Regions from separate parts of the Homo sapiens genome. Here region 1 is linked to region 2. The links come from fine-mapping of genetic effects on gene expression. A gene starts in region 2. The other region holds a variant in brackets. All regions are shown on one strand. Distances are between the middles of the regions.

Region 1 (2,913 bases), 210 kb after region 2:
GGGAGAAACCTGCCCTCATGATCCAATTACCTGCACCTAGTCCTGCCCTTGATACATGGGGATTATGGGGATTTCAATTCAAGATGAGATTTTTGGGTGGGGACAAAGCCAAACAATATCACTCACACTCAGAGGAAACAAAGGAAAGAAGTAACCACATCTAAGTAGGATTTGCTAAAAATACTTTTGTATAACTGTTGAGATGCAGTAGGTTTTTGTATGACACGGACATAATAGGTAGAGAAGACAGTTTAGTTCCATTCAGGATGGAAGACATAAATGAGCAGGTTGTGATCAAGGAAGTACTTAGGGTATCTGGTCAGAGCAGAGTTGGAGCTGAGATGTCCAGTGAATTGAGAGACAACAGTGCGTGCTGGGGTGGATGGGTTTTCATGCCTGTGGTGCAGTGTTGGTGACCAGTGCTTATCTTCTTGGACATATACATTTATCTACCATTCTACCTACCTATCTATTCTTCATAAAACATTTAACATCAACCTTGTATAGAGTCATGGTGTGGAGCCTAGAAGCCGGAGGGGAATATTTTCTCAATCTGGAAATGTCTTTAGTCCTTTTGTGATCAGAAGCAGTCTCATTTTTTTTTTTTTTTGGCTCTTTCCATTTCACAAGGAGCAAATCCTCAGGACTAAATATGTGGGAGTCACAGTGGTGTTACTGAATTTTGTCTCTTAGGCTTCCCTGGCTCCCAGTAAGTATGCCATTTGTTACCTTCTTCCTTTGTCAGTGATTGTAATAAGAAATTATGTAATCATCATAGTATGTGTTGAGAAATGCCTGCTGTTCCTCCTATATTTATTCTATGGTGACCTCTCTGTCATGGAAATCCTTATCACATATACTGCTGTTCCCTTGATGCTCAGGGGTTGTTACTTTCCATGATTCAAACAATACCTTTAATGACATGTGCTGTCCAACTCTATATGAACTTTTTTGGGGGTACACAAAATTTGCATTACTGGGAGTGATGACTGTGAACCATTATGTGGCTCTCTGTAACTCTTTGAAGTAAAACATCATTATGAGCAGACACACTGCATCTGGCTGGTAATTGTATTATTGATTGGGTTCCTTTCTGAAATCTGGTCAGTCTATGCCACATTTCAGCTCCCTTCAAATCAACTCAAAATGAATTAAAAACTTAAATGCAAGAGCTGAAAGCTGAAACTGCCTTAAAAAGAGGGATATCTTGCCATATTTGACAACAAGGATGAACCTAGAGGACATGCTAAGTGAAATAAACAGAAGGACAATATCCCACAAATGTAAGGTACCTAAAATAGTCCAACTCATAAGAGCAGAAAATAGAATGGTTTTTCCAGGGAAAAATGGGGAGTTGCTGTTCAATGGGTATAAAGTTTTAATAATACAAGAGAGTAGCTTCTAGAGATCTGATGTATAACATTGTGCCTATAGTTAACAATACTGTATTGTGCACTTAAAAATTTGTTAAGAGGGGTAGATTTCATGGTAAGTCTTCTTACCGCAATAAACAACAACAACAACAGTAACAATAAAGGGGCAGGAATAACTCCTTA[A/G]AAATGATTAATAGGGCCGGGTTCAGTGGCTCACGCCTGTAATCCCAGCACTTTGGGAGGTCGAGGCAGGCGGATCACTTGAGGCCAAGAGTTCAAGACCAGCCTGGCCAACCCTATCTCTACTAAAAATACAAAAATTAGCCAGGCATGGTGGCGTGCGCCTATAATCCCAGCTATTCCAGAGGCTGAGGCACGAGAATCACTTGAACCTGGGAGGCAGAGGTTGCAGTGAGTGGAGATCATGCCACTGCACTCCAGCCTAGGTGACAAAGAGAGACTCCATCTCAGAAAAAAAAAAAAAGTGATGAATAGGTTTATTACCTTAATTGTGGTGATGGGTTCATAGATGTACACTTATTTCCAAGTTCATCAAATTGTTTACTTTAAATGTGTGCAGTTTTCTCTATATCAACCATTCCTCAATAAAGCTGTTAAAAATTTAAAAATCTACCGTAAGCAAGACAGTATGTTTTGGGCAAAAGAATAGAGAATTAGATCAATGAAGCATAACAGAGAGCCCAGAAATAGACCCACACAAATATAGTCAACGAATCTTTAATAAAAGAAGAAAGGCAATCCAATGAGAAAGGATAATCTTTTCGACAAATGTTGCTGGAATGACTGGAAATCCAAACCAAACAGACAAACAAAATTTAGACACAGACTTTATACCTTTGGCAAAAAATTAACTCTACTTGGATCATAAACCTAAATGTGAAATGTAAAGCTTTACAACTCTAAAACAAAACATAGAAAAACCTAGGTGACCTTGGCTTTTGTAGTGACTTTTTAGCTACAATACCAAAAGCACAATATGTGAAAGAAAGACTTAAGAGAATGAGAAGAAGAGACACAGTTTGGAAGAAAATACTTGCAAAACACATACACATTACAGAACATGTATCACAAATATACAAAAACCTCAAAACTCAACAAGAAACTACTTGGTTACAAAAATGGGGAAATATCTGAATAGATCACTAAAGAACATGTATAGATGACAAATAAGCATGTGAAAAGATGTTCCACATCATATATCATCAGGGAATTGGAAATTAAAACAACAATGAGGCCAGGCATGGTGGCTCATGCCCATAATCCTAGCACTTTGGGAAGCCAAGGCAGGTTGATCACCTGAGGTCAGGAGTTCGAGACCAGCCTAGCCAACATGGCAAAACCCCACCTCTACTAAAAACATACACACACACACACACACACACACACACACACACACACACACACACACACACACCCTGGCATGGTGGTGGGTGCCTGTAATCCCAGCTACTAGGTAGCCTGAGGCAGGAGAATCGCTAGAATCCTGGGGGTGGAGGTGGAGGTTGCAGGGAGCCGAGAT
Region 2 (2,913 bases):
AAGAATGCATTACATGTAGAAGGAGTCAGCACTACTTCATGAAATGTCTATTTCAGTTACATAAGTACTGTACGTGTATGTGAGCATATTGGTTGTGATGTAAAATTAACTTCACATGATAGATCAGTCAAAAGAGTTTGAAAGCCATGGAATGTGGCAAAGAAACAAGCAGAAGTCACAAAGGCCTGAATTGTCCCCACAAACTCTGTCCCTGCAAATGGAGCTCCACAGTGAATCCCACATTCTTCCTGTGTCCTACAGCTGAGAACCCCAAAATTACCGGCCTGGAACCCATCATCAGCTGCCATACCAGATTCCCCTTCTCCAGATCCTAACCCCTTTTTTTCTCCACTCCATCCCACCTCATCCCAGAAAGCAGCCAATATTTTCCCGCACGAACAGGCACTCCACACTCCAGCAGCTGCCCTGGAGACATTGACAGTCACACCTGGGTTTCCTTAAGCCCTGACACCACGACTCCTGCGATGACACCTCCTTCCCCCAACCCCGAACAGCAGAGCCACTCTCAGAGTCAGAAGTCCCTAGCTGACCCTCCAAGGCTTCCTGGGCGCGCAGGGTCGTTCTTCCACCTTCTGTCCCCCGTGGACTCTCACCTGGAAAACGCACACCCCCCTGCCGGGTGGTTAGGCTAAGATTATGTGGGATAAGACTTTAATTCTCCAAGCATCTCCGAAAGACAGCCTATCCGGGGAGGCTTCTCCTTTAATCAGCCTTCAGCTGAATCCCTCAGCCCCATCCCTTAATGCTCCCGGCGTTAATTCCTCAAAATAATGCAGTCAGAGAAAGTGAACTTGGCCGCTAGGAAAGTTACCCCAGAGGAAGCGACGGGGAGCTAGGGCGAGCGGGGAGCGGGGGACGGGGTGGGGGGCGAGCGGGGAGCGGGGGACGGGGTGGGGGGCGAGCGGGGAGCGGGGGACGGGATGGGGGGCGAGCGGGGAGCTCAGGGCGCTCGCCCGGGGGGTTTCCTCCGCACAACGTGAAAAATCTTCTAGCCCCCAAGAAAAGAAAACAAAACCCAACGTGGCCACAAACCGGATGCCCTGTCACTGAAGTGCGAACACCACTGTGGGGCTGGGACTCAGAGGAGAGGAGGGGAGGGGAGAGGAGGTCGGCGGGGCTGGAACAAAGCCCTCGGGGCCGCTCCGAGAGGCCGCGCGCCAGCACCCAGCTGCGCCCCGAGGGAGAGAGCTGAGGACTGGCCGACCCCCGCCCTTCCCCAAGCCCGGGAGCCCGGGGCCGGCCCTGGTGCGGGGTGCGGGGCCGGGAGGGCAGGTGCGCGCGCAGCGAGCCCCTCCCCCGCGCCCCCAAAGCTCGGGGGCACCCCGACCCTCCCCACGCGCCTGGCCCCGGCGCGGCCCTCACCCGAGCGGGGGTCGAAGGTGACCACGAACACGGCCACCACCTGGTCCTCCTCCACGTCGCCCAGCTCCAGGCGCCCGGGCTGCAGCAGCACCTCCGGGGCGGCCGGCTCCTCGGGCTCCCGCCTCCGGGGCGGCTCCGCGGCCGGCCGGGCGCCCCCGCCGCCGCCCCGGCCCCAGCCTCCCGCCTGCGGCTGCGGGGCCTGCGGCAGGGAGACGGCGGGGCCCTCGGCCCAGCGCAGCAGCGGCGCCGCGTCTCCCTGCTCCACCATGGCTAGGCGAGGCGGAGCCGCGGGCGCGAGGGGCGGGGCGGGCGGGCTGCGGGAACCCCCCTCGCCTGGCCGCGCCAACGCCGCCGCCGCCCGCCGGGTCTGGCGCTGCCCGGGGCCCCGCCGCGGAGGCGCCTTTCCCACGGAGCCAGAGCAGGCGTCCGCGGAGCCGGCTTCGGGAACCGCGAGCCTATTCGGAGGCGCCCGTGTGCACGTCCGTGTGTGGGACGCGTGCGGCCGGAACGTTCATCCTTGCGTCCATACACCTGTGTGCGGGTGGAGGTGCCTTCTCACCTAGGGTTCCGTGGTATAGCTACCACTGTGAGTTTTTATGTCACCATTATTTTTTAAAGTCCGCTGGTCCTGTGGACCGTGACAGATATGTATTACATAATCCTGGATGTGTGGCAGAAGCTGCTTCTAAGCAGAGGAGTGAAGCAGAGGTGCTCTGGCTACCCAGGTGTTTGCAATATACTCATCAATAAACACTGAAAAGGCCATAGGGTTAAAGTTTGGGAATTTTGTTCTTCCTTTTATATTACAAACTGATTAGGATGGAGATTATGAGTTTATTTCCTGGTATATATACAACTTGAGGGTATTAAATTAGGAGGTGCTGGAGCATTTGTGGGACGAGGGATATTCCCTCAGAAGATCAGGAAAAGGAAGTTGCTCAGGGGAGAAAGAGGAAAGTCAGCTCTAAAGCTGATGGCTTTGGAAATGGATTAGGGGTTTTCTGTGAACCCCCATTTTATATTTAAAAATAAATTTTACATGCCTCAATCCTTGAGGTAAATCTAGCAGCTAAGTAACTCTTTAAGAGGAGATGTGTATAAAAATAGGAATAGCTATTAAAATAGAAAGAAGGAGGTGGCAAGAGAAGGAGGTACACAGTTCATCCAGGGTTCAGCAAGGCTCCATGGTTTGCCTGTTCGCAAAAGGACCCAGTAGAGCTATGTGCTGGGTGCTACTCCACGGGATGTTTATGAACCTCCGTGTCCTACACGTCAGCACTGCAATGATAATGTGATTTAACCCCTATCCCTAAGAAGATAATCAATGACTGCCCTAGGCTGCCACTTCTAATCTAAAATCTATGATATAACAATAAAGAATGTACTTATGCAGCATTTTACCCCCAAGAACAGGGTCTACTTTCATTATTTACATATTTAGTTCAGCCTTTCCTGAAAGGTAAAACTTCAGCATAGGAATCTCTTGATTGGATCAGAAGGATGAAGAAGTAGCTGTGGATGTTTGACCAA

What was found.
Region 1: its variant is fine-mapped to the expression of DENND11 in whole blood (INTERVAL, PIP 0.97).

Annotation. Positions count from the first base shown.
Region 1 is chr7:141,910,813-141,913,725 of GRCh38, forward strand. It overlaps the pseudogene OR9N1P. Among named protein-coding and RNA genes, the nearest start is that of OR9A4, 4.1 kb to the right of the region's middle. The variant A/G (reference allele first, on the strand shown) is at 1,557.
Region 2 is chr7:141,700,503-141,703,415 of GRCh38, forward strand. It overlaps DENND11 (DENN domain containing 11), which reads right to left and starts at 1,664. Exons shown (of 9, transcript NM_001080392.2): 1 at 1,384-1,664. The coding sequence starts at 1,651.